Linked DNA regions of Homo sapiens. The protein of the gene in region 1 purifies or fractionates together with the protein of each later gene. This does not show direct contact. Each region holds a gene or a part of one and is shown in the gene's direction. Other genes may lie near its edges.

Region 1 (5,527 bases):
CCCGTGCAGGACCTATGCTTGGCCTATCGGGACTCCTTGCAGGCCCACCGTTCAGGGAGCCTGCTCTCGGGGAGTACAGGCTCATCCCTCCACACCCCGTACCAACCGCTGCAGCCCTTGGATATGTGTCCCGTGCCCGTCCCTGCATCCCTTAGCATGCATATGGCCATTGCAGCTGAGCCCAGGCACTGCCTCGCCACCACCTATGGAAGCAGCTACTTCAGTGGGAGCCACATGTTCCCCACCGGCTGCTTTGACAGATAGGCCACCTCCAGACCTCACGAGGAAGCCTTGGAGATGTGGGCAGAGGAAGAGGACACTGAAGAGGAGAGCTCAGCCAAGTGAGGCAGCAGGAGGCCATCCCTGAAGAGCCTTGGAACGTGGAGGGTCTGTGCTCCTTTTAAATAAAACTGACCCAGAGCAAAACATTCAATAACATACCTCACCCGAGAGCATTCCTCTGAGAAACGTCTGCCACGTGTGGCTAGGGTACAAAAGGATGGCTTGGTGGCCGTCCCCCCACACAGGGGCCCAGTGAATCGAGAAAGACTTGATAAGAGGCCAGGAGAGTGGGAACTGGACACAGACCACTGATCTCAAGCATGTCCAGTTTTTAGCATTAAAGACTTTTCTATTCTTTGCTGATGGCAGCTACACCGCTGAAAAAGGAGGGGCAGCCTGGCGTGTTCTCAGGACCCCCGGAGGATCCCATATTGGGTGCTTTTCTTTCCCTGGCTCTATGCAGAGGGGCCTGAGTTGGTGTGTATGCCTGAGTGTTTGCCTTGCGAGGCACAGTGGGTGGCTGTCTTGCCTTTGTTTTCGAACCTAAAACCATTTTCAGCCTTTTAGATATGTCATGTGCTGCTGCTTCCCGAAGTGGTCTTGCTTTCTGTTTCGTAAGATGTCTTGTTTACACACTGTATCAGGGATTTGGTGATACTTGAAAATTCCTTTGGAGAAAAAAACAAATTTAATTGCCACACTGCCTGTCCCACATGAGGGCTGTTAATTTGGAACCCAAGTTTGAACCCAACTTGTGATGGACCCGCAGGTAACCACAGAGCTTCCTTTTTGAAGGCATATGGTTGGAGAGAACCATTTTCCCAGCTCTCGGTTCCGGAAGATTCCACGTCTTGGAGGCTGTGTTCACCACTAGAACTTTAATAACTACCCAGGGAGGGAGAAGCTCGTTGAAAGGAAGACAAAGATTTAAACAGTTCCCACCTCTCTCCACCACATACTTACAGGGCATGAGTTTAACCCAGTCTAGGCTTTGAGTGTGGCTGATAGCGAAGGATAGCAATGTGGAAAATTTGCTTAGTCCCACCTGTATTTGGGGAGTGGGATGTACATGGGCGTTTGATACCACCATTGATAGGCAAGCGACTGGTTGGATCAAAAGCCAGTATTTAGGGATCTGCAGCGAGAGGGCCCTCAGGAAGACTCTTGTAACCATGTGCAATATGTTTTTATTCTGACTCGCAGCTTGTGCTCAGCATGTTCTTTGGTTTAGTTTGGGGTTGGGGGACACATTGTTCACCCAGCAGAACTGGGAGGTGCAAAGGACCGTGGAAGCAATTTTTGTTTTGTTTGAGGAATACCTGTCTTGGATTCCTTAGCCCCTTGCCAGTCCTGGAGACTGTGGCAGGGGCCGCCAGGAAGGCAGCTGTCTGCTGCTGAGTCAGATCGGAAGGTGGTGAATCTTTCCAGAGCAGCTGAAAATCTCAGCATGGAGACAGTAAGAAAAGAGACGGGGTGTGGATAAGACTCTGCCACCGTGTCACACTAGCATAGGAGGCTGCACGTTCATTTGTTGTTGTTTTTTTTTCCTTTGCCAACCTCCGTTCTATTTATGTGCAAGCAGTTTGGATTCAAGTTCTTGTATCTGTCTGTTCTGGGACCTGGGGATTGTGAGGGTTCCCTCACAGCCAGCACGACCCCCAGAAAGAGGCGTCCCACAATAAACACGTCACCTGCTCTTGATCTCTCACCTCTTGTCCTAGGCATCCCCTCTTGGGCCGGCCCCTCCTTCCCTCTCTCAAATCAGCCCTGGTGAGCATCTCCCTATGGTAGAGGGTGGAATATTGGGGGCAGCAGCAAGACCTCGGGAGCTGAGTCCTGCCCTCTGAGTAGGAGCTGGGCCTCCCTGGGCACACAGAGGCCAGCGGAGGGGTGTATAAGGCTTGACACCCCAGCTCCATCACCGTCTCAGGGTTTTTCCAAAGAAACCAGTAGGATATATATGGAGAGAGATTTATTTTAAGGAATTGGCTCATGTGATTGCAGAGGCTGTGGTCTAAAATTTGTGGGGCATGTCAGCAGGCTGGAAATTCAGGTAAGAGCTGATGTTGCAGTAGAGTTCAAAATCTGTAGGGCAGGCCCACAGGCTGGAAACTCAGGCATGATTTCTGTGTTAGCAGTCGTGAGGCAAAATTTATTCTCCAGGAAACCTCAATCTTTGCTCTTACGACCTTTTACCAGTTGGATGAGGCCCACCCACATTATGGAGGCTTTTCTTAAAGTCAACTGATTGTAAATGTTAATCACATCTAAAAATACCTTGACAGCAACATCTAGACTAGTACCTAGCCACACAACAGGCACTGTAGCCTAGCCAAGCTGCCACATAAACTTAATGATCACACCACTTACCAGCTGTTGGAAGGCAGTTGACCCAACCTCTCTCTGAGCCTCCATCTTGTCACCTGTTAAAATGGGAGTGATAACACCTTGCCTCATAGGGTTCTTAAGAGGATTAAATAACATAATGTACATCAAGGCCAGTACCTCCAAAAAAGGAGATAATTATTATATTTCTTCAAGCATAAGATCAGCTTTTTGTAAGATGCACTATTATTTTATGCACTAATAAGACTTTTTAGAAAACTAAATCATGAGGCAGTTTGCAAGATACCATTGATTATATGTTGCATTCTGATTTCAGAAGCGTTACATGTCAAAATATGTATATGTAGAATTGATGAGATATAGCATCAGCTGTTATGAAAAATGTCAGATTCGTACTCCTCCTTGAAGGGAGTCTCACTCAAGACTTCTGTCTTGCCCTCTACCTACCCAGCTTCCAGCAGGAGAACCACCCCAGAGAGCCGGTGTCACTGTGGGGCTGAGACATTTGCTAAGTGCAGATGCCTTTGATTAGACAATTAGGGGAGGAATGGGAAGATGAGCTCAGGGCCTGAGGCTGCAGCCCAGACCCAGGAGTGTGTTTGACACCGCCAAGGGCGGGGCTGAGGGCAGTGCTCACCACCCGCTGTGTGCAAGGCTAGGTGAGGCAGGAAGCTCTAAGTTTTGGGGATTCAGAGACAAGGCAAGTCTTGGGTTGACCAAGAGCACCCACCTCACTTTGGACAAATCCCTCCCTCTTTGGGCTTCCATTTCTCCATCTGTTACTATGGAGATGGTCAAGTTGGTGGATGGTTCTAAGCTCTTGGGGCGGGGGGAGACTGTGCCACAGAGGCTGTGACCTCTGTGGCCTTCAGCCAGAGGGATCCACTTGTATTTCTTCCACCCTTGGGCACTCCCATGTAAGATTGTGTTAATTCCCATGCTGGAGGACAGCTATGAAAGCTTTAAAAAGCACAAAGATAGTCTTAAAGTTCCTCCCAGGGCTGGCATCAGGTTAAATTCAGAGGTTTTCAAGCCTGAGCAAGCTGCAGAATGACCTGGAGCCTTCTCTAGGAGGGGTGGGGACCTGGAATCTGCACTTTAGCCAGCTTCTTGGTCATTCAGGCATATGATTTCTTTGTTTGTTTTTTATATTTCAGTTGTATTTTTATAACTCCCCAGTTTAGTTTGATTTTTTAAATTTTTATTTTATTTATTTATTTATTTATTTATTTATTTATTTATTTATTTTTTGAAACAGGGTCTCACTCTGTGGCCCAGGCTAGAGTGCAGTGGCACAGTCACGGCTCACTGCAGCTTCAACCTTCTGGGCTCAAGTGATCCTCCCACCTCAGCCTCCTGAGTAGCTGGGACTACAGGCACCTGTCACCATACCCAGCTAATTTTGGTATTTTTTGTAGAGATGAGGTTTCACCATGTTGTCCAGGCTGGTCTCAGACTCCTGAGCTCAAGCAATCTGACTGCCTCGGCCTCCCAAAGTGCTGAGATTACAGGTATAAGCCACTACGCCTGGTCCAGCTTGTTTTGAAAAGTATTTTCTGACGTCTATATGAATTTAACAGAATTATCTCAAAGTACACAGAAATTACCTGTATTTGCCAGTAAATATGAGATGCTGATGAAAGAATACTCAATATACCAATATTTAAGCATGTCAACATAATAGAACTTTTTCCACCTTTTAAAATTATTTTTCCCACCTAACCCAATTTATATTTGACATTTGGGTTACATGTGCATATAGAAACAGACCTATTCCACAACTGACCATAGATAAACTAGCATGCAAGTGTCCTTTCTGGATGTAATTAAGTTTCAGAGGCAGCATGGTTCAAATGGGAGCAAATGAGCTGACCTCCTCATGAAATACACTAGGCAAAAAATCAAGAAGTATTAAAGTTGCTAAAGACTGATTCCAGATCTTTTATTTCTTCCTTTTTCTTTTTAATTTTGAGACAGGGTCTCACTCTGTCGCCCAGGCTGGAGTACAGTGGTCCGATCTCGGCTCACTGCAACCTCTGCTTCCCAGGTTCAGGCAATTCTCCTGCCTCAACTTCTCAGGTAGCTGGGAGTACTGGTGCGCGCCACCATGCCCGGCCAATTTTTGTATTTTTAGCAGAGACAGGGTTTCACCATGTTGGCCAGGCTGGTCTCAAACTCCTGGCCTCAAGTGATCCACCCGCCTCGGCCTCCCAAAGTGCTGGGATTACAGGCATAAGCCACCCGCCCAGCCTCTTCCCTATCTTTTAAATATACAAGTGTGCACTGTGGGTGTGTGTGAATTAAGACGATTCTGGACTGTGAGCTCCTATGGGCGGGGCTATTGTCACTCTATAAAAAGCCCTAGGGCAAAAAGATGGAGGTAGTGCAGGGAGCAGAGGGCGCCTGTCCTCCATCCAGCCATCATCAAACCCACCGAAGAGGCAGACCCGATTAAGTCTTAGTGGGTTAGGTGTTGACCTGGGCCTTCAAGGGAGGTTTTACTCCACTGTGTTTTATTTTATTGTTTTATGTCGTTTGTTCCACTATTTTTGTAATTGGGGCAAAGTGAGAGGTTCAGCTAATCTAAGAACACTTAATATACCCCAGAAACTGTCTGAATCAATTATTTTTATTCTTCTGCCAAACACAACTGATTTCCATCTGCAATTATTTTTTAAGGTAAGAAACAGTAAGTCAGTGAAGAAAGAGCTGGGTTAGCTTGCCCACTGAGAGATGCAGAGCCGAAGGCTGGGGTCAAGTCAGGTTGGCCGCAGCAGGGTACAGAGCAGCCTCGGTGGGCTTCCTCCAAGAACGTTCTGCAGCACCTGACACACTGCTGGTACACCGTCTCAAAAGGCAGCCATTTCCATAATAGGGATCTGCATTAATAAGTTGGTTT
Region 2 (8,137 bases), about 13 Mb from region 1:
ATGCCCAGTGTTTACTACTTTATATTCCTTCCAGTAAATGGGTTTATTGTGTTCCTACTCTCTTGGGGGTTTTTTTAATGCTTTTTTTTCTTTTGTATTTCCAGTCAATCCATGAATGGTTTGACTATTGATCTGTGACAGAGAGGAAATGCCCAATTCACAAAAGCGTTGTGTTCCCACACTTCCAAAGTTGGTTGTTTGGGGAACTCAGAATATATTTTCTTCCAAGAAACAATATTATACATGATAGGTTTACAGGCCAGCACCACAAAATCCTTCTTAACTCATTGTGTTGTTGGGCACTGCACTTTTATGGTATAAATTAGTAGAATATAATTTGGTTATAGTATTAAGAATAAACAAACCCAAATATTGAAGATATAATCTCCTTTATCCTGAATTATATTTAATGAAATAACCAGTTTAATGAAAAAAAGATAAGAGCAAAGATAGAGGCTTTTTTTTTTTTGAGACAGGGTCTTGCTCTGTCACCCAGGCTGGAGTACAGTGGTGCAATCATAGCTCACTGCAGCCTCAACCTCCTGGACTCAAGCCATTCTCCCAGAACCTCAGTCTCCCGAGTAGCTGCGATTACAAGCACATACCACCACGTCTGGCTAATGTTTGTATTTTCTGTAGAGACGGGGTCTTGCCATGTTGCCCAGGTTGGTCTCGAATTCCCGGGCTCAAGCGATCTACCTACCTCAGCCTCCCAAAGTGCTGGGAGATGGAGGCTTTTTAGGGAGAGACCTCTGCTTGCAAGATAATTTGGGAGGCCTGATAGCAGCAGTTTGTTATTTTTTTCTGTCCGGTTTCACCTTGATACCTTTTTTCATTTTCCTTCATACAGGTATGATGCACAGGAGCCAGGATTAGGGTAAATTTGAGACTCACAAAGGAAAACAGCAACGGATAGGGGAGCAAGAGGGAAAATAAGTGTGAAAGAGATCTCTTTGATGGGGGGATTAAGGCATGTTATTGCGAGGAGATTGGCTAAATCTGCATTAATTGATTTGCTAAGAAAAGGAAAGGAAACTGGGGAGAAGGCTGGAGACCCAATATCAGAACTTTCCAGGCAGGCAGAGTCGTGAGGACTGTGTAGCCAGACAGTTCCCTCTCTGACCATAAGGTGGTGCCATCAGCCCAGACAGTCGGCCCCAAGGGGGCGGGGCGTGCAGTGGGTGGAGCTCCCCACGTGTAAGCCATGTTCTCCACTCAGGTTCCGGAACTCAGAAAGCCTGGACCAGGCAGCACGTGTCAACTTGCACATCACTGACTCAGCACCCACGAACTATGCCCATCCGCTAAAGCCCCTTCGGCTCACACTCGAGCAAGAACACGTCTGTCTTGCTGGGCATCGAGACGCACGTGAAGATTCCAACTAATTCCTTCCCACTCCTCTGCTCTTTCTCCACAATGGCAGCTCTGGGCCCCTGAGCATTTCCTAATTCCTAAAGAGAACCTAGTCTAAAGCGCCCTACAGTCTCATCCTTAAATACCGTCAGATCTTCCGTGAGGAGCACAGATTTGTCACAAGGAGCCCAGCCTTCACAACATGCCCTGGCCGACTTCCCCAGTTTGATGTCCCACTTTCACACCTAACTGGGCAACCCCTATTCCTGATACAAATCCCACCGGATCCTCTCCATGCATTTAGCCCTGCTGGTCCTCCCACCTCCCATGCCCACTTTTTTCCTTGCCTCTACTTGTCACTATCCTCCCCCATCCTTCATGGTCTAACCCAAATATCCCCTCCCCCAAAACCTGCCACTCAGTGTTGACCGCATGTAACTAGCAAAGTGGATTTAGACAGGAAAACATGGGCTCCAGGCGTCAACCACAGAAGGCCCTGGATGACACAAGGTAGGTCATGTCTGCCTCTTCCTGGCTGTGTATGCGTTAAATTGAGGAGGAGGGCCCATCCAGACAGGTGCTGCTGAACCTCAGGACAGCAGCTGGTCCATCCAGGAGACCTCCCAGGCCTCAGTTCCCATCTAGGGAGGGCCCTAGGTCTGGAGGGACACCAAAGGCATGAGTGTGGTGTGTGGTGCGGTGTCATGTTAGCTATATAATAGTAATAATGATTATTATTACTGTCCCCTGCCCCACCCTCATCAGCCACAGTCTGCCAAACTTGGCCTCAGTTATAAAGCTAAAGGAATCAGCCAGAGAGAGGGGGAGTCAATCACAACAAAGTCACCAGTCTGAGCCCCCATCCCACTTCTACCCCTGCGGCCTAGACTGGCCATTTCAGCAAACTGCCTAGTGATTCTGCAAGGGAATTTTCACAGCCTTGGCGGGTCGGACTCAGATGGGCATTCTTATCTGGATGCTTTGGACTTGGCTAAGTGGCCCAGAGATAAACCCTTAAGAACTAGTGCCTGTGCTTACGCCACCTCCAATTCTAGCTACTATGTGTTCTTTTGGTTCTAAAGGGGCAGTTGGCTCAGGTGAAAACCAGGAATGTCCCTTGGAAGGCAGGAGCAAACAGCCTCAGGACGAACTTTGAAACTATGTAGGTCCTCTGAGGGCAGCCCCAGGGGCCCCATGGTAGCAAAAGGTAGGCCTAGCCAAAGGCTGGGCAAAGCAGGAGCAGGGAGAGCTCCATCCCCCTGGCCATCGCTCCAGGTATCCTGGGAGGCCTCTGCCCAGCACACTAAGTGTCTGCATCTGGCAAAAGAGGGCTTGCTCCTGCCCCATGGAGCTCTCTCCTATTTCTGCTTCTCAAAAAAAAACAGGTGACCAGATGCCTTCTTAATGTCAATATTGCTCATGTTCTCTCCTACAAAAGAGGCCACATAGAAAGAAAGTCTACCCAGCTGTACCCATAAGCAGGAGTGGGACCAAATGGCTACTTGTTCTCAGGAAATTCAGAGCCTTAAAGAGTTAGTTAGGAGAGGCCAGAATGCCGCTGTGTCGTTTGTTTGCTTTGTTTTTAAGGATCTACAGGAGGTAGTTTTCCATAAACTAGGAAGCTAAGTTAACTATGCAAACACAAGCAGGGTGGGCAATGTGAACTGGCCGTTTTAATGTATTTGTACCCGCACGTCCTTGCACAAAAGATCCAAGGCTGCGCGGAGTAATTGCTATTAGAATAGTGGGCATGGTCCCTACCGCCGCAGGTTCGGACCTTCAAAGTGACAATTTATGGATGCTCCCTGGCGCTCCAGCGCAGGGGAAGCCCACTCTGAAGACGCCCTCCCCACCCCCTCCTCTCCTTCCTTCCGACTCAGGAGAGCTCGACACGCCGGATAGCTGCGGCCAGCCGTGGCCATCCTGGCCCCCCGCCTCCGCCTTCCCCACTCCCGCGTGCAGCCGGGACACGGGAAAGGAAAGCTTTGGAAGTCAAGCGCCGGCCAAAAGATGACCTGCCCGCGTGTCTCCTCGCCCCCTCCCCCAGCCGTGTCACATGGCGGCCCCAACCAGGCGGGCAGTGCGCCCCGCCGCGGAGACCCAGGGCCGCGTCGCCTGGGCAGTGGGTGATGAAACTTCCCAGGCGCATTACCGCAGAGGGCGCGGGCGGGGCGCGGGGCGGGGGTGGGGGATCGAGAGCTGGTACCGGGGCTCACCTGTTCTCCAGGAGGAGGGTGGGGACGGGGGGAGGGGCGAGTGCGCGCCAACGCCGGGTGCGTGCCCTGGGGCGCTTGGGCGCGGCGCTCGTGTCCCCGCCCTCCCCCAGCCCTGCGAGCCCCCCGAGCTGCGCCGTGGGGTGACGGGACCGAGAGCAGTTCCTGTCCCCGGCCCCGGCGCGGGGGAGACGTGAGCGTGCACACGTACACACACAGCAGGGGAAGAGGCGCTCCAAGCGGCGCCCAACTTTCTCCTTCCCTCCACGGGCCGGGTGAGAAAGTAGCCGGGGGCTATCCCGACCCGGCGGTTCTTGGGGAGGGGGCCGAACAAGAAAAGGGAGGAGATGGAGATAACTTCCCCGGATTTAGCTTTTTTGTCTTTGTTTTTGTTCTCACCACTTCCATCGGATGACTGGAGAGTAAAAGGGAACCCGGAGCGGGGTGGCGAGCAGCGCTTTGAGAAAATGCAGGAGTGTGTTTGGAGACGCGTAAAGTTGCCTTTCAAGCTCTGGCCTCCGGGCACGCGATGCTCCGCGGCGGGCTGACTCAGGGCTGCCTTGGGCCTCCCTGCCACCCTCCTGGAAATGATGCAAGTCCTGACTGTCACCTGGATCCCTGCAGCCCAGCCTGGAATGCGTCTGGATTAGGGGAAAGACGAGAAACGACACTCCAGGTGTTGCACGGCCCACCAAAGCGGGAAGATAGGGCAGTTGCTCAGACCAAATACTGTATCTAGTGCTTCTGCTCCTATCTTCAATCGTGGGGTTCTTTTTAATGCAAAGTGTCACAAGGCCAGGAATTCCCATGTGTGCTCAGTTGGCCCACAGCATCATTGTGCCTAGGAAACTGCTTCAATTTATCAAGTCCTCTGGGCTGGGAATCTCACTGAATTCCAAACGGCGGAAAGAGGAAACTTTCCCAACCCGATGTGGGTGTGACGCGAGCCAGGGGCCCCAGGGACACTGTCCCAGAGCACACCGTCCCCCTTTAACAGCAACTGGAGCTTGGATTCGCTCTTATATTGTACAGTCCTTTCGACCATTGCCCTGGAGCACCCGCACACGCGCACGCATCTCCGGCCGCGCTCACACACACTCATACACACGCACGCAAACGCGTGGCCGCCGCCAGGTCGGCAACTTTGTCCGGCGCTCCCAGCGGCGCTCGGCTTCCTCCTGTAGTAGTTGAGCGCAGGCCCCGCCTCCCGGCCGTGTTGTCAAAAGGGCCGGGGTCTCGGATTGGTCCAGCCGCCGGGACAACACCTGCTCGACTCCTTCATTCAAGTGACACCAGAGCTTCCAGGGATATTTGAGGCACCATCCCTGCCATTGCCGGGCACTCGCGGCGCTGCTAACGGCCTGGTCACATGCTCTCCGGAGAGCTACGGGAGGGCGCTGGGTAACCTCTATCCGAGCCGCGGCCGCGAGGAGGAGGGAAAAGGCGAGCAAAAAGGAAGAGTGGGAGGAGGAGGGGAAGCGGCGAAGGAGGAAGAGGAGGAGGAGGAAGAGGGGAGCACAAAGGATCCAGGTCTCCCGACGGGAGGTTAATACCAAGAACCATGTGTGCCGAGCGGCTGGGCCAGTTCATGACCCTGGCTTTGGTGTTGGCCACCTTTGACCCGGCGCGGGGGACCGACGCCACCAACCCACCCGAGGGTCCCCAAGACAGGAGCTCCCAGCAGAAAGGCCGCCTGTCCCTGCAGAATACAGGTAAGTGCATGTGCCCCCGCAGCCGGGAGCTACTGGGAGAGGACACCGTGCACCCACGCGGCGCGCCCCAGGCGTTTCGCCGGGAGCCAGGCGCCCACCCAGGGCCACGCAAACTCTTGGGATGGCACGGGACGTGCAAAGGGAAGCGCGAGGCAAGGCGAGGTCCGCGCCGGGCTCCGAGGGCCCGGAATCTGCACGTGCTAGCAGGGTGATGAAATGGCTGGGGCAGGACTTGTTGCTGTCCTCCCCAGGGTCGAGGGGAAATGAAGCAGCGTCTGACGCTGCCAGCGCCAGCCCCCGCCCCCGAATCCCGGGTCCGGTGCAAAGCGCGCTTCATCCCGGCCGGCACGCGGGAGGCCCAGAGGGTCCCCGGAGCTGGGCTGCGCCCTGCGCCCGGAGAACTTCTCTTCCTGGCCTGCCGGCCTCAGTAAGGGTGCCGCGTCTTCCCCCTCCTCAAAAGATGCCCGACATCCCAGAACTTTGCCGGCGAGACAAATGGCATTGCGAACTTTCCCCCTGGGGGCACTGCTTTCGGAAGGGAGCGTGAGGGCAGCGCAAAGCGTACCTCCGCGGTGCTGCCGCCATCCCCAGCTCCTGGCCAGGTCAGCAAGCCAAGAAATGGTGACACGACCCGAACCGTGCGCCTCCTCTGCTCTACCGGCTCTTGGCTCACCGGCAAGCTGCAAAGCAGAGCCAGGCGTGCAGGGCACGGGGCTGGCCCTTTTCCCAGCTCGGAAAGAGAAAGAAAATCTGCCTACAGCTCCTTCGCTCCACGACCCCTCCCCCGACTTTGGGGGGCCGTGTGAACGCGGCAGCGGCGGCGTGCGTGCGCTCACCGCACGAGCTGGAATGCACGAGTGCCCATTAGGGACGCCCCAAGTGAGTGAATGGCGGCCCTGTGCGGTCCTGCCCCGGCGGCGCGTGGGGTCTTACGGATCCTGTCGCCTCCACATGCTGGGGCCGGCACCCCCACCACCCCGAGACCCTCGCCCACCCTCCCCCTCCTCTGGCGCTTCCTCTGAGAACTGAACCTGATTCTCGGTGGTCGGTGACCCTCAACAATACACGCCCCTCATTCTCTGGCTAGATTTAATCTGATGCGGGTTATCTGCTCCGACCCCGCCCTTCTTCCAAAATATACTTTTCTGATGTAATTTTGTGGTTGATTTAAATCAGAGACTTGGGTAGTGGAAAGGGAGGGAAGAGGCTTTGCACGCTGCAGCCTGACAGTTAACTCCCTCCGTCTGCCCCTTCCGAGAGAGGACTGGGGGCCACATTCGGTGAAGGGCTGCAAGCTTCCTCCCGGGCTGCGGGAATTCTAGGGGATTGGGTGATACCTCACCCGGATCCCTAATTAAAAGGAGCCTGCAACCTCTGATAGTGGCGTTTCTGAAGGCTCGCCCCCAGCTGACTCCACTCCTAAGCCTGCTCGCCAACCGCAGCTTCCCTAGCTGGTATTTTAATGCGAAGGGTTGGGAGGCACTGCCTTAATAGGAATTTTGTTTTGATTTTTAGGTGTTGAATCATAAAGCTGAATTGAAACTGCTTTTTAGATGCTGTCATTTGGGGGTCAGGAAGCAAATGGCTGTGATTTAATAGCAGCAACTTCTACAGATCAAGTAGAGAAGGGTACTTCATTGATGAAGTACAGTCTTCGACTCAAAATTTTATTTTTGTCTGTGGGTTTAAAAAGCGGAAATATATTTTGCTCTCAAACTAAGTATTCCCACAAATACTTTAATAAAATGGAAAGGATGAAAAGGAGGAATGCTCAGACCAGCCTTCTGGTTGTAATTTTTGTAATTTTTCGGCTCTTTTCTACAAATATTTACAAATAGAGATATTTTTCATGAGTAGATTAAAGGACGAAATTTTGTTTCCCAGGCTTTTTAGGTCCTGAAATAGTCATTACTAAGTCTTTTTTCCTCCTTAAATTTTCCTTTAGTTGTTAACTTTTATTTCAAATGACCTCTCTGCATTGCCCAGCATGGGTTAGAGTTTTGTATATATTTGTATGTGATTTTCCTTTTAGCGGAGATCCAGCACTGTTTGGTCAACGCTGGCGATGTGGGGTGTGGCGTGTTTGAATGTTTCGAGAACAACTCTTGTGAGATTCGGGGCTTACATGGGATTTGCATGACTTTTCTGCACAACGCTGGAAAATTTGATGCCCAGGTAAAAATCCATCCAGAGCATGAAGAATGTTTGGGGTGAGCATACATGATTGAAACGTTCATTGGAAAGCCTTGTTAACCAACTTCCTTTGCTGTTCCTTGTGGTGTGTTTTAGTGCTTGCAAGCGACAGTCTAGGTATAAAACATTATGCCAGTGTCTCCCTTCTGCACTCATAAGCTGTGTCTACACAGGCAGGGTGGACTGGAGACCAATGTCATAATAAACGATAAACACCTTGTAAGGGGACACGCTGTGTCTGGCCACCCAGAACTCAGTCTCCAAAGCCCACTGCATGAGAGGCAGGGGCAGGAACCCCCAATTATACATTTCAGAAGTCATTTCACCTACTAGGAAAATGAGACACAAAGTATGTAGAAATCCGTCATGTGGTGTGTGGGCAGCCAACCCGAATAACTCAGGACCTCCAAAAGAGCAGACTTCTATTCCTCCTGAGTAGCAGATCTTTCTCTCCCAAGCTGACCGGTCGAAACCCTGATTGAGTCCTTCAGTTCCACACTTTCCTTTTGCTCTATATGATAAATATAGTCAGGGCCTGACCCACTTCGGTTATCCCAGGGTCCCAAGGGGAACGCGGAGTTGCTGCTCAGGGCAAGGCAGGAACACAACAAGCAACATATGGCTCCAGTGCCAACAACGCAAATACATTTTTAGATGGCATGTGGC

Evidence for each region.
Region 2: the proteins of CCNJL (region 1) and STC2 purify together in Homo sapiens (affinity purification with mass spectrometry; 3 studies listed by BioGRID and IntAct, with this or other methods). This does not show direct contact.

What each region holds. Positions count from the first base shown.
Region 1 is NC_000005.10:160,248,115-160,253,641, reverse strand, and holds the end of CCNJL (cyclin-J-like protein), read left to right. Parts: coding exon 1-264; 3' UTR 265-4,559; downstream 4,560-5,527.
Region 2 is NC_000005.10:173,325,184-173,333,320, reverse strand, and holds the start of STC2 (stanniocalcin-2 precursor), read left to right. Parts: upstream 1-4,906; 5' UTR 4,907-5,127; coding exon 5,128-5,278; intron 5,279-7,310; coding exon 7,311-7,453; intron 7,454-8,137. UniProt on the Homo sapiens protein: Has an anti-hypocalcemic action on calcium and phosphate homeostasis.